Linked DNA regions of Homo sapiens: all the other regions are linked to region 2. The links come from fine-mapping of genetic effects on gene expression. A gene starts in region 2. Each other region holds a variant in brackets. All regions are shown on one strand. Distances are between the middles of the regions.

Evidence for each region. PIP is the estimated chance that this variant, and not a neighbour inherited with it, causes the effect.
Region 1: its variant is fine-mapped to the expression of RASA3 in tibial nerve (GTEx, PIP 0.95).
Region 3: its variant is fine-mapped to the expression of RASA3 in testis (GTEx, PIP 0.97).

The regions. Positions count from the first base shown.
Region 1 is chr13:114,031,109-114,039,108 of GRCh38, reverse strand. All of the region lies in intron 4 of RASA3 (RAS p21 protein activator 3), which reads left to right. Among named protein-coding and RNA genes, the nearest start is that of C13orf46, 61 kb to the right of the region's middle. RefSeq lists enhancers at 1,720-2,919, 2,850-3,418, 6,977-7,918. The variant G/A (reference allele first, on the strand shown) is at 3,540.
Region 2 is chr13:114,128,802-114,136,801 of GRCh38, reverse strand. It overlaps RASA3 (RAS p21 protein activator 3), which reads left to right and starts at 4,179. Exons shown (of 24, transcript NM_007368.4): 1 at 4,179-4,367. The coding sequence starts at 4,313. LOC107987192 (a long non-coding RNA gene) reads left to right here and starts at 5,799. Exons shown (of 2, transcript XR_001750050.2): 1 at 5,799-8,000. RefSeq lists enhancers at 1,658-2,158, 1,988-2,167, 4,456-5,083, 5,254-5,753, 6,044-6,303 and 1 more and silencers at 3,874-3,973, 4,004-4,663.
Region 3 is chr13:114,072,751-114,080,750 of GRCh38, reverse strand. It overlaps RASA3 (RAS p21 protein activator 3), which reads left to right. Exons shown (of 24, transcript NM_007368.4): 2 at 6,914-7,031. Among named protein-coding and RNA genes, the nearest start is that of RASA3-IT1, 33 kb to the left of the region's middle. RefSeq lists an enhancer at 6,461-7,660. The variant G/AG (reference allele first, on the strand shown) is at 4,297.

The DNA of each region.
Region 1 (8,000 bases), 98 kb after region 2:
GCCAGCTCCCTCATCGGATTGTTGCCAACGTCCTTTGCAGGCCTCAGTTTTCCCATCTGGGTGGGTTTGTGAAGCGTGCTGGTATGGCGTGTGTGCCACTCGAAGGCACCTGGCGCATCGTAAATTGGTGGCTGTGATGGTTATTTTTACACCTGGAGGCTGGCATCCTGGACAAATCCCCAAAATAGGTTCCTTGTGAGGACTTCGCCTGAGACTTCAGCAGAGGCAACTGGGTGGGTCGGATGGAGGCTCTGTGCCCGCAAGTTCAGGGCAAATTTGGGCTGGGGGACTGGATGGCCTGGTGTCCTCTGGGAACCCTTGTCCCCCGGCAACCCTCATCCTCCTGGAACCCTCATCCCTCGGGAACCCTCGTCCTCTGGGAACCCTCGTCCTCTGGGAACCGTCTTGCCCTGGCAACCCTCATCCTCTGCGCTTCACTGGGTCAAGGTTGCCATTTGCCAAGGTCATGAGCTGTGCACACGCCCATGGCCAGCAAAGGGTTCATTCATGAAGTTGACCATGAGCCCAGCTGTGGGGGTGGGGTGAGGCCCTTGACGGAAATTAAGGAGTGGAGCCAAGAAGCCCTGGGGATGGCCCTGCCCCAAGGGACCTGTGCTAATTGTGCGTCACACTTAATTAACTCTGCTTCCTGGGAAAGCACTGGCTGGGGAACCCACACGTGCTGTGGAAAGTGAAGGACGCTGTGATTACTGCAGAACTAATGACTGTCCTCGCATCCCCGGAGCACAAGGGCCCCAGCGTGCTGCTCCCACGGACCTTGGCGTCCCGGCAGAAAGGCGGGGTTTCCCACGTGCTGCCCGGGAGACGGGGCTTGGTGACTGGGCCGCTCCCGCCTGCGTGTCGGCGAGTTCCCCAGCTCTTCTATTCTGGGATACCCGCCGTCGCTGGGGTCTCCGTCACAACGGCCTCTGAGCAGCTGGCAGAGTGCGGCCTCGTCGTTTGCCTCGGATTCAAGTTTGGTTTTATTGGCAGGTGTAGCTTTTCCTCTTTCTTGCCTTTTTTTTTTTTTTACTGATTTAATTTTGAAATGGTTATAGATCTATAGGAAGGCATCAAAACAGTACACAGGAGTGGCGAGGGGCGAATTCCCACCTTTCCCTGAAAACGGAAGGCCGTGCTCCCTTCTCCCGGCTCCCCCGAACGGAAGGCCGTGCTCCCTTCTCCCGGCTCCCCCGAACGGACGGCCGTGCTCCCTTCTCCTGGCTTCCCCAAACAGAAGGCTGTGCTCCCTTCTCCCGGCTTCCCCAGGCACTGCCATGCGCAGCTGGTGCAACGTCAACCAGGACGCCGACGTTTGTGCAGTCCACGGATGTTATCCAGATTTCACCAGTTCACAGGCACGTGTTTCTGTGTGTGTCTCTCTGTGTATTCTATGCTATTTTTTCCAGTTTTTTATGTGGTAAAACAGAGACATGAAATTTACCATTTTAACCATTTAAAATGTCCAATTCAGTGGTATAGCATTGAATATATTCATAATATTGTATAACCGTCACCACCACCCATCTCTAGAGCTCCTTTCATCTTGCAAAACGGAACCTCCGTCCCCTCTGTCCCCTGGCTAGAGTTTTATTCACACGCTCCCGTCCGCCCCTTCCCCACCGGCAGCCCCATGGCACTCTGTCTCTGACGCAGGCCACTCCCCGTGGCTCATGGGAGTGAGCTCTACCCTGCTGGTCTTTCTGAGGCTAATGTCGCTCTGCGTGACATCCTCCGGGTCGCTTGTGGTATCAGAACCTCCTTCCTTCCAAGGCTGAGGAATGGTCCGAGGTGCGAAGCGTGTGCTGTTGCTCCAGTCACCTGCCGATGGGCTGTTGTGACAGTCGGTGCAACTTCATCACAGGGTAGATAGTGTAACCACCATGACGATCAGGACTCAGACGTTGCATCTCCACAAAGCTGTAAATAAGAATGCCGCAGGTTGATCTCACAGCTGGTGGAATCTCATAATTAACGCCCGAGGCTGCGTACCCGTGGCCAAGCCCAGCGTCCTCCAAGCCTGACTCTCACTGTCCGGAACATGAGGATCCTGAACCGAGTGGTGTCAGTCTCCCGGGAATTTGCACTTTATGGAAGGCAAATGCGAGCTGTTGTCTAAAAGGGAGGAGGCAAGGTCATTGCTCTCCAATGCCCGCTGCTCTCCAATGCGTTGCTTCACTGATGCAGTCAGCCCCAACGCCGCCCAAAACGTAGCGTGACAGGGAGCAGTGGCCCTGCTGGACTCCAGCCAACCTTTAAAACCTCAACTCCAGGCTGGGCGCGGTGGCTCATGCTTGTAATTCCAGCACTTTGGGAGGCCGAGGCGGGTGGATCACCTGAGGTCAGGTGTTTGAGACCAGCCTGACCAACATGGTGAAACCCCGTCTCTACTGAAAATACAAAATTAGCCGGGCGTGGTGGCGCATGCCTGTAATCCCAGCTACTCCGGAGGTTGAGGCAGGAGAATCGCTTGAACCCGGGAGGCGGAGGTTGCTGTGAGCTGAGATCGCGCCATTGCACTCCAGCCTGGGCAACAAGAGTGAAACTCCATCTCAAAAAAAGAAGAAGAAGAAGAAAAAAAACCCCACAACTCCAGTCTCAGGAGCCGCCGTTTCATCATAAGATGTCACAGTGACCATTTTCAGGAAGGCAGGGGGTAGCCATGTGGCTCCATGAGTCCCTCCGCTCTGTGATTCCCAGGAACAGTCCTGTGTCCGGACAGCGAGTGTCACAGAAGCAGCCCATGGGGGAGGCCAGCAAGTGAGTCACAGAAATGGGGGAAACACAATTAAACCTTTCTTGCTTCCTTCTGGAACGGCCACTGTTGGAAAGTCTTTGTTAAATCACTTTATTATGCAGAGTTGTGCTCTCTGACCCTCCCCTGATGCAGGGCCAGCGGGGGAGACGCCAGCGTCAGATGCCAGTGGGGGAGATGCCAGCGTCAGATGCCAGCGAGGGCACCGCCTGTGACAGCGAGGCATCCGCGGTGATCTGGGCGCCTGGGGGTCACTGAGCTCCGTTTATAAACCAGGCTTTCAAGTGCATCTGTGACGTATTCAGAAAATAGCACAGCCCTGCAGGGGATCACAGCAAACCCCTGGGTCTGCCATCCGCCCAAGAGACACCTACGTGTTTCCCCCTTGGAGCCTTCCAGTTGCACCGTGAAATCTCACTGGGCTGGAAATTCCAGCCTCCTGCTACAGCCTCTGGGAATTTTGTGTTTGTGCAGCAGACAGTCCTCTTGGAAGGATTTTCGGAGCAAACAAAGTCACCGTCCGTCGTCAAGCTTTCACATCTCTCCAGGGTTGTAAGAGGAGACGGCCGAGGCTGGGCTTCCTTCCTCATGGCCTCTGCATCCTGTCTCATCTGCCCGCGGACTTCGTCTCCTCTCTGCGGCCGGCGTGGAACAGTCCTGCATCCAAGGCACCTCTGTCCTGGCTGCTCTCTGGGCCGCTGCCCGCTCAGTGGGGGACACGGCAACCGGTGGGTGGGGCCAGGACCCTGACCCGGCTCTGCGCGCTGCTCTCTCCCTGGGGAAG[G/A]CCTTCCTGAGAAAGATGGATAGGGACCATTGGCTGCTTTTTAAAAATTAATTAACTCTGTTTTGGGGGCAGTTCTGTGTTCACAGGGAAATTGAGCAGAGTACAGAGTTTCCATACACCCCTCAGCAGCCCCCGCCCAGGGCCCCATGGGTGACACTGCAGCCACACGTTGTCAGGAGCTGGACGCTGGGGCCCCTTTGCTGCGTCTGTGAGTTCGCAGGAGTGCAGCGCCAGGGACCTCAGTGCAGCGTCCAGGCAGGTGCCAGGGTCGGCAGCCAGGTCCTCTCGTTCCTTTCCTGTGGGAATTTGTGCCTTTTCCCTTTTGCTCTTAGTAGCCTGGTTTGAGGTTTATTAATTTTATTGATCTCTCAAGGAATTTGCCGTTGGCTTTGATTTTTACCTATTGGTTTCCGATCTGACTTCTGTTTTCTGTTCTTGGGCTCTGGGTTTAGTTTACTCATTTTTCTCAGTCTCCCAGCTCTAAGCTCAGGTCAGCGTTCAGATCTCCCTTCTGCTCTAAGCTCAGGTCAGCGTTCAGATCTCCCTTCTGCTCTAAGCTCAGGTCAGCGTTCAGCTCTCCCTTCTGCTCTAAGCTCAGGTCAGCGTTCAGATCTCCCTTCTGCTCTAAGCTCAGGTCAGCGTTCAGATCTCCCTTCTGCTCTAAGCTCAGGTCAGCGTTCAGATCTCCCTTCTGCTCTAGTCTGTGTGGCCGGCACTCCAGATTCCCCTCCACCCCGAGCACGGCTCCCGCTTCATCCCACTGATTTTGATGAGTAACACTTTCATTTCTGTTTATTCCGGAACATTTTAAAATTTGTCTTGCGTTCTCTGATCTGTGTGTTATTTAGAACTGTGTTGTTTAACCTCTAAATGTCTGGGATTCTCCAGCCTGCGCCAGCACCTGCAGATTTACTCATTGGCTTTTCTGGCAGGAGAAAGGGCCTTCCAGGGGTGGGTTTTGTTTGTTCCCACTCCTGAATCAGCAGAAGACGAAAGCACACAAGTCAGCTGGTCAGGAGGGATTCATGCTGCAGGAACAGGAGCAGCCTCAGGACCTGATGGTGACCAGCCAGGTGCCCCTGGACCCGGCCAGGAGCCGGGAGAGCACACGGGGGCCGCACAGCCTGCTGCCAGGGGCCGGGAGAGCACACGGGGGCCACACAGCCTGCTGCTGGGGACCAGGACCCCCCACATGCAGTCGTGACTCTTCCTGAAGCTCCCGAATGTGAATAGAGCTACCTCCGTCTGCACAGCCTTGCAAATCTGAACGCTTCTGTCCTGAGAGAGTTTGCGCCCGGCATTTGAGAACGGGGATGAAGCAGTGGGGATTCTTGGTTATTCTTGGGTCAGGCACTTTCTCCTGTCTTTGGTGGTCAGGCCACTCCTTTAGCCCGTGGATAGCCACGGATAGCAGGCCCAGTGCCCGGCTGGTGTTCAGGGCACTCCTTTAGCCCGTGGATAGCCACGGATAGCAGGCCCACTGCCCGGCTGGTGTTCAGGGCACTCCTTTAGCCCATGGATAGCCACGGATAGCAGGCCCGCTGCCAGGCGGTGAGGACCACAGGCGATACTCCGCTCAGCCCTGAGCTCTGATGGGTGTGGGAAGAGGAGCTGTGGTCTTGGTGGGGTCTTTGTTGTCATTTTAGGCACCTGTTTTCCCCGCCCACAGTGCTGGCGTGGGGTTCATGCCCACCTTCCCGGCCCAACATCCTTGTGGCCCCTCAGGACCTGCTCTGGGGCTGCAGCCACAGGGCGGGAAGGCCACACCCAACCTCCAGACCCCAGAGTCTCAGGACAGCAGCGGAGGCCCCACCTCCCACACCTGCCTGGGCAGCACAGACCCAGTTCCATTCCCCCTGTGAGCGCTGGGTCAAGTGTGGGGGTGCCGTGGGGCGTGGTGTCAGTGTGGGGGTGCCGTGGAACGTGGTGTCAAGTGTGGGGGTTCCGTGGGGCGTGGTGTCAAGTGTGGGGGTGCCGTGGAACGTGGTATGAAGTGTGGGGTGCCGTGGAACGTGGTGTCAGTGCGGGGGTGCCGTGGGGCGTGGTGTCAGTGTGGGGGTGCCGTGGGGCGTGGTGTCAGTGTGGGGGTGCCGTGGGGCGTGGTGTCAGTGTGGGGGTGCCGTGGGGCGTGGTGTCAGTGTGGGGGTGCCGTGGAACATGGTATGAAGTGTGGGGGTGCCATGGAACGTGGTGTCAAGTGTAGGGGTGCTGTGGGGTGTGGTGTCAGTGTGGGGGTGCCGTGGAACGTGGTATCAAGTGTGGGGGTGCCGTGGGGCGTGTTGTCAGTGTGGGGGTGCCATGGAACGTGGTGTCAAGTGTGGGGGTGCCGTGGAACGTGGTGTCAAGTGTGGGGGTGCTGTGGGGCGTGGTGTCAGTGTGGGGGTGCCGTGGGGCGTGGTGTCAGTGTGGGGGTGCCGTGGGGTGTGGTGTCAGTGCGGGGGTTCCGTGGAACGTGGTGTCAAGTGTGGGGGTGCTGTGGGGCATGGTATCAAGTGTGGGGGTGCTGTGGGGTGTGGTGTCAGTGTGGGGGTGCCGTGGAACGTGGTATCAAGTGTGGGGGTGCCGTGGAACATGGTATCAAGTGTGGGGGTGCTTTGGGGTGTGGTGTCAGTGTGGGGGTGCCGTGGAACGTGGTGTCAAGTGTGGGGGTGCTGTGGGGCATGGTATCAAGTGTGGGGGTGCTGTGGGGTGTGGTGTCAGTGTGGGGGTGCCGTGGAACGTGGTATCAAGTGTGGGGGTGCCGTGGGGCGTGGTGTCAGTGTGGGGGTGCCGTGGGGCGTGGTGTCAGTGTGGGGGTGCCGTGGGGCGTGGTGTCAGTGTGGGGGTGCCATGGAACGTGGTGTCAAGTGTAGGGGTGCCGTGGGACGTGTTGTCAGTGTGGGGGTGCCGTGGAACGTGGTGCCAAGTGTGGGGGTGCCGTGGGGCATAGTATCAAGTGTGGGGGTGCCGTGGGGCTGCACCGACGCGGTGTCAAGTGAGGGCTGAAGGGCTTTATGTTCCACTCCCTGACCAGGGGCTTCGGGGTGTGCACCCTGGCAGGGCAGGCTGCGCCCACGACCCAGGCACCCCGAGGGTTCACAGGCAAGGGTTTCAGAAGGTGGGGAGGCTGAGGTTGTGGCAAAGTCATAAATCAGTACATGGAGGCCGTATGTCAGTTTGACCTGAGAAGGCAGACATCACGACGTGTGGCCCATGGGTCGGATATAGAGCGTTTTTGATTTGTGATTGGTTAAGGAGGAGAAGCTTTGTCCAAACAATTGAGATCAGCAGAAAAGAATGTTGGCTCTGGCCCACAGGCATGACCCCTCCTGGCCCCTGAGGAAGAAATTCAGAATAGAGCCGGGTTCAGGGTTCGGGCCTGTGATCCCCCCTGCATTTGTGGTCTGTGTTGGTAGATCTGTTTGGTGAGGGTCTCGGTTTTTGAAAAACAATTTAGGGACATATGTTAAGATGCTATTTTTAACTTGTATAGGGAATAAATATCTCCTGACTAATTTTTTGGCTATTATTTTATTATTTATTTTGCTTGTTAGGTGATTTACCACTCAAGGCTGGCTAGGTGTCTGATATATTTTTGAAGGAACTCGAAGGTTTTTTAATCATTTAGGTGGGTGGGGCCTAAGCGAGGTCCCTGCTCCATCCGAGGTTCTGCACCAGGCCACGTGCTGCAGGGCTGCTGTCGGTTCTGCCGTCCACGTCTTAGCGCCAGGCATTCTGCCCGTCTGTCCCACCCTCCCACAGGCAGGGACAAGCCCTGGGGAACACGCCTTGGCCTTCCCGGAGCCTCAGGAGCTAGAGCTAAGGGCCGGGCCAGGCAGAGCCCCTGAAGCATGGATGAGTCTGTGTTTATCCCATCCATTCATTGCCATTCAGGCTGGAGCAAATACAGGGACAGCGGCACACACAGGTAGGCACACATAGCCGCACACACACACAGGTGGACACAGTCACACATACACACAGGCGGTGCACACACAGGCAGACATGCACACACAGTCGCATGTACAGACAGGCGGACAAACACACATACACAGGTGGACACACAGCCACGCGCACAGACAGGCAGACACAGTCGCGCACACACACAGAAGGACATGCACACAGCCACACACTACAGACAGGTAGACACACACAGAGTTGCATGCACATACAGGCAGATGCACACACAGCTGCTTGCACACAGACAGACATGCACACATAGTCGCACACACACACAGAAGGACACACACAGCCAAACACACAGACAGGCAGATGCACATACAGACAGGCAGACACCGACAGGCAGACACACACAGTTTCATGCAAACACAGGCAGACACACAGCCGTGTGCACACAGACGGACACGCACACACAATCGCACGCCCACACAGACACATAGCCACATGCACAGACAGGCAGACACACACAGCTGCATGCACACACAGGCGAACATGCACACAGGTGGACACATACAAGCAGAT
Region 2 (8,000 bases):
GGCGTGTGACCTCTAGTGAGCAAAAGGTCGCGTGCCTCCATTTTGAATTCAGGCCCAGTGAGCCCCTTGGGATGCACCTGGCAGGATGGGCTCTTTCAGGTTCAGATACCTGATTCCACCGTTCTTCCTTCAGTTCTTACTTTGAACCCTCCAAAAATTATTCCGTTGTGTACTGGTCATTTATGTGGCTTCAAATCCTTTGAAAGTAGATTGTTCAGACATGATCTAATAATGCTGTTTTGGAAATGAATGAATGTCCACTTGTCAATGGGTTGATATGTGAACAGAAGAGTATATCCAAAGAGAGCAAAGTGTAACACCAAGGTCATTGAAAGAAGAAATTATAGAGATTTTCTATTGGGTCATCATCTGATCCTTTCTTCTCTCAGTATTTTATTTCCCAGCTCATATTATCACAGCTCTAAGAGACAACTTTCTAATTTAGAAAACGAATGACCAAATCCTTCATTTAGAACACAAATGTGAGAAGGCCGGTGCTTGGGCAGCTCTGCGGGGCTGTGTTTTGTTGCGGGAGCCCTGGATGTATGCTCAGCCCCTGTGCCTCTCAGAGGGCTGGGGGCCCCACATACAGATACCTTGCTCCGATGTGCCTGGATAAGCACTGAGGGTGGGTTTTAGGGACCGACTGGGGAGAGATGCACGTGGGGTCTGAGTCGACCGTCTGTGGGGCACTCTGGTCATGCCCAGCATCCATTTGTGCAGCACAAACTTTTTCTCTGGGACTGTCCGCCCCCCAGGTTCTTGTGGTATCGTAAAGACGACCACAGTTTCGAGATGTAGGAGTGAAATGGACCGAGGCTAACCCAGTGAAGTTTGCGGCTGGGTTAAGGAGTGAGTCAGGGAGATGCGTGTTTTCTCCATCATGACTGGGAGAGGAGTGCTCATTTGCCGGGAGGTGAGGGTGACTGTGCACCTCAGCCGCCAGCAGGAGCACCAGAGAAGCCCTGCTCCAGCCCTGCTGACGTCTGGGCCTGGGCCACCAGCCGGTGCAGTGAGCCTGGACCCCAGGAGTGCCTTTTCCAATCCTGACAGACAGCTGCTTAATGTGGGACATTGCTTTACTTTACGAGTTGAAAACGCCACCCTAGCAGCACGGAGCACCTCCCAGGGGCTAAACCCTGTATCATGACTGAATGCGCCCATGTCAATGAATTCTAACATCTAACTCTACATTCTGCCTCCCCTGAATCCAACGTTCTTTGGATCTAGTTCTGCATTTACCCCTGGCTCATGCTGGTGCATGCATTTTGGTCCTGAAGCTCCTTGGCCGACTGTCTCTTCCTCAGTTTTTAGCCTCAGCACTTCTCCAGCTTGATGATGCTGACCTGGAGGAGCTGAGCTGGAGGTGGGTGGCAGGCGTGTCGCCTTGCAGAGGTCTCTGCAGTGTCTTCAAGCACAGAAACAGCATTTGTCCTTAACAGACAGAAATGTGACACCTCTTCAGGCCCAGCAGATTTAGAGGAATCTGGGATTCAAGATTTTTGAGTGCATTCATTCAGATGGCCCCATCGCAAGCCTCTCTTCTTCCCAGTCAGGGCCTCTCTTCTTCCCAGTCAGGGTCCAGAGCTTGGAACAGCACCTTCCGAGGCCGAGCACCCGAACCTGGAACAACACCTTCTGAGGCCAAGCACCTGGCCTTCTCTGGAGCTCTGCCTTCTACACGGTTAAGTCCTGGCCCTGATCCAGTGTTTTGGTTTTCCTCTGGTCACAGGAGATGAGTGTCTTATGTGGCACTGAGGAGGCCCGTTAGCGTGCCACCCTTTTGTTTCAGGTGGTGATCTTTTCATTATCTTGCCCTCAACACGAGCCACCTGATTCCATAGTCCATGTATCTGTGACTTTCCCGAACTCTCCAGCACCCGAGATCCTGCCGCTGCCAGTGCATTTCCTTCCAAGGGGCTCCCGTCCTGGCTGCCACTGCTGCAGTCTGGAGATTCACTCCTGACCCCAGCTGTCGCCTGGAAACAAACACCAAAGCGAGATCCGCGTTGAGTTTATCAGCAGGCCTGTGAGGGTGGAGGGATGGCAGAGAAGCAGCTTTGTGGCTGGGCTGCCACAGAGGACTCCACTGGTCCTCGGAGAAACACAGGAGCCGGCTTGCTTCCAGTGGCTCCAAACGGAAGCATAGTCTCCGTCGTAAAGCAGGGGTGTGGATGGCGTCCACAGCACCCACTGCAGACGCCACCCAGGGCCAGCGCTAGACGCAGAGGCTCTGGGTTGGAACCAGGGGTGCCGCCTTAACCTCCTGTTCTGCCCCAGTGAGCACCAGGCTTGCAAGGGCTGAGGATGAGAGAGGCCCCTGTGGCTGCAGGCTCCCAGCAGTCAGGGGAAGAAAGGCCATTCATTCTTTCAACGCATGGAACTGCTTTTTAGGAAGTGAAGGTAAGCAGTGGAAAAAAATAGGCCTCTATCTTCATGAAGCTCCTGTTCCTCTCCATGCAGTGTGTGTGTGTTTGTGTATGTTCACGTAGGTGTGTGTATGTATGTTTAGTGTGTATGTCTGTGCATGTGTATGGGTAGTATATGTGTGTGCTGTCTGTGTTGTGTGTATATGAACATATGTGTTCATGTGTATATGTGGTGTGTGTATGTAGGGTGTGTGTATATGTGTGTATATGTATGTGTGTACACGTGTGTAGTATGTGTGTGGTGTCTGTGTGTGGTGTCTATGTGTATGTATATGTATATGTAGTGTATGTGTGGTATATGTATGTGTGTATATATGTGTAGGGTGTGTGTGTGGCACTGGGTGCAATGAAGTTTTGCAACATAGAGGAGGGAGTGTAGTCTCAGTTCATATACACACCTACAGTTCATACACACACACAAACATACTCCTCAGAGAGGAGGTCAGGGAGGAGGAGACCTCGAGACAGAAGAAAGGGAGGTAAGGGTGGTACCTGCCCATGCTGGGGTCTGCAGGGGGACTGGGGGGGGACCTGCCCATGCCGGGGTCTGCAGGGGGACTTGGGGGGGGACCTGCCCATGCTGGGGTCTGCAAGGGGACTTGGGGGGGGACCTGCCCATGCCGGGGTCTGCAGGGGGACTTGGGGGGGGGACCTGCTCATGCCGGGGTCTGCAGGGGGACTGGGGGGGGACCTGCTCATGCCGGGGTCTGCAGGGGGACTGGGGGGGGACCTGCCCATGCCGGGGTCTGCAGGGGAACTGGGGGGGGACCTGCCCATGCCGGGGTCTGCAGGGGGACTTGGGGGGGGGACCTGCCCATGCCGGGGTCTGCAGGGGGACTGGGGGGGGACCTGCCCATGCCGGGGTCTGCAGGGGACTGGGGGGGGACCTGCCCATGCTGGGGTCTGCAGGGGGACTTGGGGGGGGGACCTGCTCATGCTGGGGTCTGCAGGGGGACTGGGGGGGGACCTGCTCATGCTGGGGTCTGCAGGGGGACTGGGTGGGGGAGACCTGCCGGTGCCGGGGTCTGCAGGGGGACTGGGGGGGGACCTGCCCGTGCCGGGGTCTGCAGGGGGACTGGGGGGGGACCTGCCCATGCCGGGGTCTGCAGGGGGACTGGGGGGGACCTGCCCATGCCGGGGTCTGCAGGGGGACTGGGGGGGGAGACCTGCCCATGCCGGGGTCTGCAGGGGGACTGGGGGGGGGAGACCTGCCCATGCCGGGGTCTGCAGGGGGACTGGGGGGGGGGAGACCTGCCCATGCTGGGGTCTGCAGGGGGACTTGGGGGGGGGACCTGCCCATGCCGGAGGTCTGGGGTGGGGGGCTGTGTGTGCGTGTATGTGTCCCCGCCCCCCTCGTGCGTCTGCAGCAGGTGCCTTCGGATCGCATCTCAGGAGCTGGGGCTGGGCGCGGGATTCCTCCCCTGCCAGATCGTTGTACGTGAACTTCTCTTGGCAAAGTTCGTCCGCGAGTCAATCGCTCAGCCTCGCTCAGCGGGCCCGGGCCGCGCCGGCGACCTTCCTTCGTCTCTTCCGCCAGGCAGCCCGCTGGGGTCCCTTCCGCTCAGCGGCCAATCCGCGGGGCGGGGGCGGGGGCCGAGGCCTCGGGGGAAGCCGATCCCTGCGCCCCCCGGGTCTCCGCCACCCGCCAGCGCCGTCCCTGCCAACCCCGCCCCTGCAGGGCCCGGGCCAGTTGGGAGCAGGGGCCGGGCCGCGGGCGGAGCCTCCCGGTCCCCGCCCTCGCCCTCGGCCAACTGGCGGTCTTGCAGGCGGGCGGACCCTCGGCCGCGCTCGGGGCTCCGGCGCCGCCGCTCCTCCTGCTCGGCCTGAGCTGCCCGGGCTCGGCGCGCGCTTGGGGCGAGGCTCGGCGGGCGCGGACGCGCAGCATGGCGGTGGAGGACGAGGGGCTCCGGGTCTTCCAGAGCGTGAAGATCAAGATCGGTGAGTGTCCGCCGGCAGCCACGCGTCCGACCCCCCGGCCCGACCCTGTCCTCTCCCGCGCCCGCCTCCCCTCCGCAGATCCTTGCTGGGGACCCCGGCGGAGACGCCCTCCAGGCGCGGCGCGCTCCCCGGAGAACGGCTGGTCCGGCTCCGCGGCCCCTCCCCACCTCCCCGCCTCCCCGGGCCTCGGGCTGGGTCGAGTCGGCTCCGGGGTAACGCGGCTCCCTGCGCCTCCTCTGCGCCCGGAGCGGCCCCGGTCCCTGGTAGCGGCGGAGGAGGTGGGGTCCCTGCGCCGAGGGACGTCTGTCCGCGTGTGCGCCCGAGCGTGTGCCCCGCGTGTTTGCAGGAGTGCGCGCGCCTGAGGCTGTCTGGGCGCCTGCACTTCAGGTGTCAAATCCACTGACGTCGGGGTCTCGGCATCTCCCTTTCTCCGCTGCGCCCAGAAACTTCCTTTCCGGGGAATGTGGAGGCTCCTTCACGCTTCTCCCCAGGGGCGTGAGGCCCCGGCGCGCTGCTGCTGCTGTGCGCGCGCGTCTGTGCCTGCGTGCGCGCGTGTTTGTGTGTGCTTGTGTTTGTGTGTCCATGTGTGGGCGGTGTGTGTGCGCGTGCGTTTGTGGGTGCATGTGTGGGTGCGTATTTGTGTGTGGATGCATGTGTGCGCGCGTGTGTATTTGTGTGTGGGCGCGTGTGTGTGCGCGCGTTTGTGTGTGTGCATGTGTGCGTGTGTGCTGGTGGGGCGTTCTGGCTGAGGGCTCCCGCGGGGCGGGGAGACCCCGGACCCATCGGCACCACGTCCCTTTCCACTGAGAAGTGGCGGGCGAGCTGGTGGCGACCAGGGCCTGCGAGGCTGCGGTTTTTCTCTGGGCTTCAGCAGCTTCTGAAGTGGGCTCCCGGAGGCGTTTCCGGAGAGGAGGCTGTGTCTGGACTTCTGGTTTATCTGGAGGGATCTGCTTTTCCCTGGTTGTTTTATCTTGGGAGAGTGATGTGGAAGTCCTCCCCCTCCCCCAGAGCAAGACCGTTTCCTGGAGTGACTGTTCCATATTCATGCCATGAGTGTGCTGGACCACAGCGCGGTTCAGGCTGGAGAGGCTTCCAGGGCCTGCAGTGTCGCGGTCCCCACGGTCCTTCTCCCCCACTGAGCCGCACTTCGCAGCCGGCCTCTTCCCGTGTGAAGAGGCCTCCGGGAACGGGCTGAGTGTCAGTTGTTGATGACATTTGATGCTGCCGGAGGCATTCCAGCTCCCCTAAACCAGCGGGCTGTTTCCTGTCGGCTTTATTTTGGTTTGCGGATCATCGCTGAGACACTGTCTTGATATTTGGCCCAGAAGCGCTGCAGCTAGGATGTGGCAGCACTTCCGCTTTGAGTAGTCCAGAGAGGAGGGATTTCTTTTGTTAATGTGGTTTAAATCCGCTGTCACTTTCATACAAGAAAGCCAGAGCTGGCGCTCCCTGAAGTGCCTGAGGTCGCCTTGCCTGGGTGGGGAAAGGTCGCGGCCCGTGGGGGTCAGTTTGCTGCTCTTTCCTTCAGCCAAGGCTGCTTGGCTCAGCCAGCGAGTCTGAGGAGTGTGAGAAGCACTGGGCTTCCTCAGTCACGGGGGCAGGAGGGCTGGAGGTGGGTGCCCCTGTGGGGCAGTGCCAGGTCTCCAGGCAGCAGGCAGAGGCGGCCTGGGGCTTTGCGGCTCGGGGGTGGGGGGCCCACAGCCGGCACAGCATGCTCGCTGTGTACTCCAGGAAGGGCTACACTTCAGGCCACGGCAGGACTTTACAGAAGGCATGGGAAGTAGAACAGGAGGGCGAGGGAAGACCAGAGTCTCAGACCAGATACTCAGACCCTGAGTCTCCCAGAAGGCAGCTTCACCGGCCTGCGGGCACTCGGCCCCACTTCCGACAGGCGTGGGGGTCAGGCACCCTGGAGGATCCCTCGGAGAGAAGGAGGTTTGGAGATGCCACAACTTGGTCAGGCTCTGTGCTCCACTTTAAACAAGCCAGTGAAACCCTGGCTCAGCTGAGGCTTAGGCTGCTAATCCCACGTGGGGCCTGGATATCATCTGAACCTTTGACCCTCCCAGGGGCAGCAGCAGTGAGGACGGGTAGAGAGGCCCAAATGCCAGCTGCCCGACTCTCTGGATGTGGCTCCAGCAAGAAGTCCCCGTTTCCTCTCCCCTCCAGAGGTCACCTGCAGGGCTGGCTGCCTGAGGGGTATCTGTGCCCCAAGTAGCTGGGGAGACAGGGCACCTCCTGCATTTGAGCAGAGATGCAGTCTGGGCTGGAGACCCTGAGGGTGACCTGTGGGTGCGCTGGTTTGGGGTTAGTCTCATGTAACTGTGCTGCTGGCCTGATACCCCGGGGCTCCAGCAGAAAGCCCATCTGTAGAAGCGAAGTGGAGGATGACCCTGAGCGGCGCTGGTGCCAGGGGGCCACTGAGCCCCTCAGGCTCTTTCTTTAATCCACATTCATGGCCAACCTTGGCTCTGACTTGCCCTGCCTGAGTCCCTGGTCTTGAAGGCTCAGACAAGATGGTGCCCCTGTGGTTGATTTGAGGGCCCCTCGCTGTCATTCACCTCTGAGCCTTGTCTCCAGGAGCGCTGGATTTGCCCATGAGTCTGCCAGTGACTTGCTGCATGACCCAGGGCCCGTGTCTTCCCCTTCATAACCTCATTTTTCCGTTTGCAAAAGCCAGGCAATTATTGTCTACTACATCCGGTGGGAACGTACAAGGCAGTGTTGTTCAGGGTTAAGTTAACACCCTGCCCCCTCACTCCCAGAACAAGAATTGTCCCTAAAGTTATACCATAAGCAATTCTGCTACTACTCTTACTAAGAAAAAAAGCCAGCACATTTCTGGGGGGATTGGGAGCTTTTTTTAAGGTATAGGGGCATTGGCCATTTAAATTCTTAAATAGCTTTGAAATGTGTGGTGGTGTGTGGCCTCATTCAGACGTTGACATTGGGAAAAATGGAAAGAATCTCTTCCTCCTTTCCCCCTTCCTCTTTCTTTGTCCTTCCAGCTCTTGCAGGTGAGGTAATAAGAGGAGAGCGCCACGTAGAAGTGAGGTGCTTTGGTGGTAACAATTTGGAGTCTTTGTCTTGAAGAATCTGGCTTTCTGCATTTCAGTTTTGTGGAATCATTTTGGATATGTCCTTCTGTGCACTTAAACATCTTAAACACTGTGTCTTTTGAAACAGTCATTAACCTTTCACAGTAGAGTCTGTGTATCATGCATGACTGAGCCACACTTCCTATGCGATCGCTGCTTTGAGGAAGCCTGTGCTTCGGACTTTCCATGAGTCAGGGACCCACAGGGAGGGCACTTCCGCCACGGCCACGGCGTTGTTTTGGGGCCCCCGCCCCCAAGGCGTGCAGTGCCTCCTCCCCTCGCAGTGATGTCTTCCGTTTCCACAATACTTACTGCTTGTTTTTAAATGTGGCGCCTTATCTTGATACATGTGTTCAATAAAGAGCAACACACAAGGTGTTTCTCTCAATCTGTTACAGAAAAAAAAAAAGCCAGCCCCGCGGTCCAGGGCGGGAAAGGCTCTCGCACCGCGGTGACCCTGCCGTCGAGCTGGAGGCGGTCAGCGTCCGGGAATGCCGTCCGTGGGAGGCCGGGCCTGCCGTGGGCTCCCCGCTGG
Region 3 (8,000 bases), 56 kb after region 2:
TAGTGAAATCCAAGCGTGCCCTGGGAGGTGGCCCCTGGGGGAGACCCCTGTTTCAGTGGCCCCTGGGGGAGACCCCTGTTTCAGCCGTTGTCGGGGTCAGGCCTCCAGTAAGCACAGTGGGCGCCTTCTAGGACCCCTCCTGCCACCCCGTCACCATAGACTCATTCTCCCTGTGGTGGAAGTTTCAATTACATTGAATATGCCCGTTATTTGGGAGGGTTTAACATCTGGGCCTGGTCACCCGCCCCTCAGCAGAACCTCCCGTGCCCTCTGAAGAGCCGTGGAGACTGGAGGGAGCTGGAGGTGCTCTCAAGGAGACTGGACGACAGGCAGACCCCCTGGACGGCAGTGCTGGGCCCTCCCTGGGCAGGTGGTGTCACCCAGTGAGTTTTGGAATCAGCCCGCACAGCCCTCTCCTCCTTCCACCGCCCACAGAAGCCCGCTGGTGCCAGGGGCTCCCAGCAGCCCCTCCCGGCCAGGAGGATTGGGGGGTGCCTTGCTTGAGGATGGCAGCCTGGGCTTCTGTCATTCATAACCCACAGGAGTCCTCTTGAGGGAGGAGCATGGTGCCCTGGAGAGCCCTGGACAAGACCTGGGCCTGGCTCCATCCAAGCCCAGCGGCCTCTGCCCCTCCTGAGCGTGAGGATAGAGCAGGTGCCGTCTGCCCTCGACTCGGCCCAGAGGAAACCCCACTCCCACGGCCTCGCCGAGTTCTGCCTATTTCTGGCAGCTTCGCAGGCCCTTCGGGAAGGCACTTGTGTTGCCAGGGGTCGTGGGGGTCAGGGTCATGCTGTGTCCTCAAGACGCTGTGTCCCCTGCCTCGGGGCCCCCCCGCCTCTTCCTCTTATGGCCTCTGCACCGCAGTCAGCCCACCGAGATGTGCAGCCTCGTCCCACGGAGGGTGCCGGGTGGGGAGGCCAGTGCGGACGGGCACTCAGGCCCACTCAGAGGCCAGTCACGGAGCCCCCGTGTCCAGAGGCGAACAGGAGCCAGGGGGCACATGGGCCTTGCAGTCAGCAGCTCAGAGCCCGGAGAGGGGTCTCTACCCACGCATGGCACAGAGGCTTCTGTGCCTCACTGAGACCCTGCCAGGGCCTGGAGGAGGACCTGTTCGAGTGAGGATCCCAGGGGCCAGGGCTGGGATCGCTGTTCCAGGCTTCTAAATAGCCCAAAGTAGACGGGGCTCTTCATCCTTTATTCAGATATTTTAGTCACAAGACTATTGTTCCGGTAAATACTTTATGTTGTTAGAAGACGCTGTGTGCCTAGCAAAATTTTTAGGCCCCTTTGAATGTTTTGCGTTGGGACGACTAAAAGGCTGAGGTTGGGAGCCTTGAGAGCCGCACTTCCTCCAATTCTCCCGCAGGGTCTCCTTCCCCAACAGGCCCTGGGCTTTATTGCTGGGACGGGGTTGCTTTCGCTGGACCATGCACCGGGGCTGTCGCCATCACCTGTTCCACGTTATTTCAGTGAGGCCGACCTGTAGTTGAGTAAAACGCCGTGATGACGTGGGAAAGAGAAGAGCGCCCAGCCTGGGTGGACGCGGCCAGTACCAGCACAGCCCTGGCCTCTCCAGGACGTCTTCTGTCTGGGTTGGTGCCAGGAGCTTTGCTCAGTGGAGCCCTGGGCCCTCGTCCTCACCCGTGGCTGCCTTCATTCCTTCCTCCGCCCTCTTCACTGGGCGCTGAGCTGAGCTGCTGAGCGCCTGGGAGACGCCCGCTGCTGTGTTGAGCAGTACATGAGGCCAGCCCCGCCTGAGGGCCCTCCCCAGGATGCCTGCAGGGAGGAGCAGTGCTGGGTGGGGTCTGTGGAGACCTCCCCATGCCCTCACAGCTCCTCCTGGGTACAGGGGTGTGGCTCCGGGTGCTGCGGGCAGCCCCGACAGCTCGCTGTCAGCACTTGGAGACCCTGTGTGGGCCTCCAGGGAAGCCTGGGCATCCTAACCCTCGGTCAGGGCTGGGCCTGTGCTCACCCTGAGGGTGCAGCTTCCCTCCATGGCCCAGAAGGGCTGCCGTGGGCGTGGGAGTCATGACGCTTTGGATCAGGGCCTTTGTTTTTGTTACTCACTGCCTGATCCCTGGAGTTGGAAATCAGGTTTTGCGGTGTTATGCTGTTTACATTAAATGTGTTTAAGTGCTGCCTTTTACTCCTGTTAGTTGAGTTTTCAGAGCCGATGCGAGGTGCTGTGTTGGCTGTCTTCATCAGTCTGCCGGCTGGTGAACACACCGCATATGTTTTAGAGGCATGGTCTGTGGGAAAAGTGGTCATGAGAACTGTTACTTATTTGGCTGTTAGGATGAAACCAGTTTACTTTTCTTTTAATTCATTTATTCATCCATGCATGCAACAGATAATTAGGTACTTACTGTATACCACAGACAGCTTTGTCTTTTTATATGAACGTCTCTGTGCACCAGAAAAAAAAGAGAAAACGTGTTTCCTCTAAGAGAGACAGAACAGGCACCTTTGGTGAAGGTAACTGAATGAACTGTTTGGGGTGCGGTGGAGAAGAAACAGTTGCTTGGGAGCTGGGGCAGCCCCCGTCCCGCTCAGCTGTGGGGCTGCAGGGAGAGGCTCGGTCCTGGTGCATGTGGCACACACGGCGAGGCCCCGGGGCGACGTGGCCAGGCCGTGCTGCAGCAGCCCCAGCCCTCCTGGTCTGAGCAGCTCATTGGATGTTGGTGCGTCCAGCAGGCTCCCTGGTGTTGCTGTCGTCATAGCAACCAGGATGTTTCTCAGGAGTTTTTTTTTTTTTTTTCTGTTTCAATGCTTTATTAACAGTTGGAAACAAAACCAGTGCCTTGGAGGTGATGGCATCAGAAGCCTGAGGCAGGGAAATGGGCTTGCATTTTGTCCCCCCACTTTTTTTTTTATTAAATGCATCATAGCAAAAGTAGATTAAAAAGAAAGAGTCTCAGCCCCAGATGACAGTGAGCAAGGAGAAGGAGGTAAAGACGGGGCCATCGGGCGGGGAGGGAGGAACCTGGTGTGTTTTGGGGCCAGGGGACTGGGCATCATCGGGCAGGGAGGGAGGAACCCGGTGCCTTGGTGCCAGTGCGGGGGAACTGGGCATCGTTGGGCAGGGAGGGAGGGAGGGATGAATCCGGTGCGTTGGTGCCAGTGTGGGGGGACTGGGCATTGTCGGGCAGGGAGGAAGGATGAATCCGGTGCATTGGTGCCAGTGCGGTGGGACTGGGCATCGTCGGGCAGGGAGGGAGGGATGAATCCGGTGCGTTGGTGCCAGTGTGGGGGGACTGGGCATCATTGAGTGGGGAGGGAGGAAGGGATGAATCCGGTGTGTTGGTGCCAGTGTGGGGGGACTGGGCATCGTCAGGCAGGGACGGAGGGATGAATTGGGTGCGTTGGTGCCAGTGCGGTAGGACTGGGCATCGTCAGGCAGGGATGGAGGAACCTGGTGCGTTGGTGCCAGTGCGGTGGGACTGGGCATCATCAGGCAGGGAGGGATGAATCTGGTGTGTTGGCGCCAGCGCAGGGGGATCCGGCCTTTTCATGTCGTACGGCGTCTGTCTTACAGGGACTCCACAGAAAGCTTGTGTGTTTCCGTCCTGCAGTGTCCGCCTTCGGAAGACCCAGCTGTTACTGCTGTGATTTGAGGCCCTGTGGGAACAAATCTCAGTTCCGTATTATCCACAAACACCATCTCCCACAGGACTTTCAAAAGCTTTTTTCTCTCTCCTTTTAAGAAACACAGGAACTTACAGCTAAATATCTACACTCATTTGTTGCAAAAAACAAAGAAATCCCAGAAAACAAAACAAAAACAAAAAACTCCCAAAGACAAAAACAAAAAACCCAGTAAAATCCCAAGGGAAATATGGTCAGCGTCAGGTCACACTGTAAAGGTGTCAGAAGGAAAGTCAGCAAAGTCAAGCTGTGTTTGAGGGTAAGGACTTCTATCTGCTGCAGAAGCCGTCAGTTCCAAAACAGGGCCGGGAGGCTGGAGGGGCCCCTGTCCGACTTGCTGGGTGTGCTGCGGCTGCCCTCAAATTCAGGGGCAGCCGCGGCCACCAGGAAGGCTGCGTCTGCTCCGGGAACCTCAACTGCCATCCCCCAGGCTCCCTTCCCTCTCTGGAGAAGCTCGCCGGCCATGTTCTCCCCTTCGTGCCTGTGAACTCATCACACACCCTGCCTGCGTGTGCCGCGTGTGTGTGCGTGTGCTGCCTGCGTGTGCTGCGTGTGTGTGCGGTGCTGCCTGCGTGCGTGTGCTGCGTGTGTGCGCTGCGTGTGTGCGTGTGCTGCGTGTGGGATCTTCACATCGGTGGGAGCCTTCGGAAA[G/AG]CCTGTCTTCTGACATGGGATGACCGACCTGAGGCCTGGCCTGGAGCCAGGTGCCTCGTAGCAGCCTAGCTGTGTTCTCCCATGCAGCGGGTGAAGAAGGCGCATCCCGGGAGAGTCGCCGTGTTGAGGTGTTCTGAGGGTCCAGTGCCTATCAGGAAATACTCATTTTTTCCCACCAACCGATTATCATTGATGCTTCCTTAATGATTCCCAAAATAAAAATTTCCAGAACCTTTTGAATTAGAGGCGTCTCAGAGCCGGAGGAGCCTTCGAGAGCTGCTGTGTCTCTTGCTTTTGCAGTTCAGGACTTTGAGGCCCAGAGAGGTAGACTGTGTGTTGGGGGCACTGGCGGGAAACGGCCGCAAGCAGTGAGACCCTGAGAGCTGCTCCGTGTGGGCAGCAGCGGGTGCTGCTGGGAACGCCTGCCGGCGCCTCCACACGCAGAGATACGCGGCGCCGACACGGGAGGCTTCGTCCTGCCGGCGCCTCCACACCCAGAGATACGCGGCGCCGACACGGGAGGCTTCGTCCTGCCGGCGCCTCCACACGCAGAGATACGCGGCGCGGACACGGGAGGCTTCGTCCTGCCGGCGCCTCCACACGTAGAGATACGCGGCGCCGACACGGGAGGCTTCGTCCTGCCGGCGCCTCCACACGCAGAGATACGCGGCGCGGACACGGGAGGCTTCGTCCTGCCGGCGCCTCCACACCCAGAGATACGCGGCGCCGACACGGGCGGCTTCGTCCTGCCGGCGCCTCCACACGCAGAGATACGCGGTGCGGACACGGGAGGCTTCGTCCTGCCGGCGCCTCCACACGCAGAGATACGCGGTGCGGACACGGGAGGCTTCGTCCTGCCGGCGCCTCCACACGCAGAGATACGCGGCGCGGACACGGGAGGCTTCGTCCTGCCGGCGCCTCCACACCCAGAGATACGCGGCGCCGACACGGGAGGCTTCGTCCTGCCGGTGCCTCCACACGCAGAGATACGCGGCGCGGACACGGGAGGCGTTGTCCAGACCCTGGGGCTTCTGCTCCTTCTCACAGTGCCTCAGGTTAATATTGTGGATGAAAAGTCTTTAAAAAGCTTCAAACTGAGTTTATCTCTGCCCTTTGGAGTTGCTGGCATGCCAGTTTGCAAACTGGCATCTTTGAAATGAGCCGACTGCCCCATGTGAGCCATGACGTGTGCGCTTGCTGAGTTGACGCGAAACATTCAGCGCGGAGTGGCGGAAGTGGGGTTCTGAGAAACTTCTACTCTGCTCCCGTTTTTGATTTTGTTTGTTTCAACAAGAATAAGGTGATGTGGCCCTGAGTGGCGCCAGCAGGAGCCTTGGTGTGGTCTCAGCGTGGTGCCTGTGCCTGCATCTGTCCTCTCATCCTGCGTCGTGGAGACGCCACTGCCAGGCGTCTTTAGAGCCAAATGACGGAGGCAGAAAAGGCCCTGGGGAGGCGCGAGTGTGTTTGAGGCGTTTTTTTTACAGAATGGACTTAAACTGGGCATCCGCTGTCTGGATTGACAGCTGTCACTCATCCCTTCCTGCTCACTCCCTATTCTCCAGTAAACTGGGCCGTTAGGCTTGCCGCTGGGGCATGCTCCGAGCTTCCAGCAGAGAAGTCGCAGCTGGGGTTCAGTTATGACCTCCAGACTGACCCCTGGCAAACAAGGAGTCCGGGATCACGGGCGTTTTCTGCAGGGCCAGCCAGGAACTGGCCCCACTTCCTTCAAGCACGTCCAGGTGGCGTCTCTGTGGGCTTGAAGGAGGGAGAGGTGGACCTAGCTTAGGTCCCTCTGGGACGCTTCTCTTTACTGGCAATTCGAACAGCTGGAGTTTACAGTTAACTCACGTCCACAAGAAAGAGCTCTTTCCTTTAATTCTGGCTCCAACTTTGACCTAATATAAAATAAAATTCAAAATAAAAAGGGACTCAGTGGATAAATGAATAAGCAAGACGAGGTCCCTTTGCATCATGGAAGTTATTCAACCTTAAAATAGAAGGGAATCCAGTCAGCGGCCACAGCAGGGGCCACCCTGGAGGACATTTGCTGAGTAGAGTGAGCCGGGCTGAAAGGACACGTCCTGTGGATCCCGCCGACGTGAGGCCCCAGAGTAGTCAGATCCACAGAGACAGAAAGTGGGGTGAGGGCCACTGGGAGACAGCAGGAGGGGGATGGGAGTGAGTGTTGAATGGGGACCGAGTCTCCGTTTGGGAAGACGAGAGTGTTCCAGAGAGGACGGTGGTGATGGTTGCACAACTCGGTGAACGTGGTTAATGCCACAGAACTGTGCACGCGAGCAGGTCAGAGATGGAAAATTGTATGTTAAAAATTAAAATAAAGGGACTAATGCAGGTAAACAAGACACAGCAATCCTGAGTCCCAGGCTGGCAGGTCCCTGCTTGCGGGACTTGCATTAGAGGGTGGCGTGCATGTCCCTCGCCTTTCGGCAGTACACATGGGGTGCACATCCACATTTTGACTTGTGGTGGCAAAAAAACCAAGGCTTTATAGAGAGCTAGTGAATGCACACAAGCAAAGGCTGGAAACGTGTCTGCGATGTAGCAGGGAACAAACATTTCTACGCTGCTGATGATGTATGTCGCTTTTACTTTTTAGGTGAAGCCAAAAACCTTCCCTCTTACCCGGGGCCGAGCAAGATGAGGGATTGCTACTGCACGGTGAACCTGGACCAGGAGGAGGTTTTCAGGACCAAAATTGTGGAAAAGTCACTCTGGTAATGTCTTCTGTTGCTTTACTTGGCACTGATGTGTTTTCTTTGGTGTAGAGAATGTCCCAAGGGTGTACGTCACCTTCCCATTTTCCCATGTGTGGAGAACGTCCCGAGCGTGTACGTCACCATCCCGTTTTCCCGCATGTAGGGAATTTTTCTGTGCGTAGACAATGTCCCGAGCGTGTACGTCACCGTCCCGTTTTCCTGCGTGTAGGGAATTTTTCTGTGTGTAGACAGTGTCCCAAGCATGTACATCACCGTCCCATTTTCCCATGTGTAGGGAATTTTTCTGTGCGTAGACAATGTCCCGAGCGTGTACGTCACCGTCCCATTTTCCCGCGTGTAGGGAATTTTTCTGTGTGTAGACAGTGTCCCAAGCATGTACATCACCGTCCCATTTTCCCATGTGTAGGGAATTTTTCTGTGCGTAGACAATGTCCCGAGCGTGTACATCACCGTCCCGTTTTCCCGCGTGTAGGGAATTTTTCTGTGCGTAGACAATGTCCCGAGCGTGTACGTCACCGTCCCGTTTTCCTGCGTGTAGGGAATTTTTCTGTGTGTAGACAGTGTCCCAAGCATGTACATCACCGTCCCATTTTCCCATGTGTAGAGAATGTCCTGAGCGTGTACATCACTGTCCCATTTTCCCGCGTGTAGAGAATTTTTCTGTGTGTAGACAATGTCCCGAGCGTGGACATCACCGTCCCATTTTCCCGCGTGTAGGGAATTTTTCTATGTGTAGACAATGTCCCAAGTGTGTATATCACCGTCCCATTTTCCCATGTGTAGAGAATGTCCTGAGCGTGTACATCACTGTCCCATTTTCCCGCGTGTAGAGAATTTTTCTGTGTGTAGACAGTGTCCCGAGCGTGTACGTCACCATCCTATTTTCCCGCGTGTAGAGAATTTTTCTGTATGTAGATTATGTCCTGAGCATGTACATCACCTTCCCATTTTCCTCCTGCTTAGTTT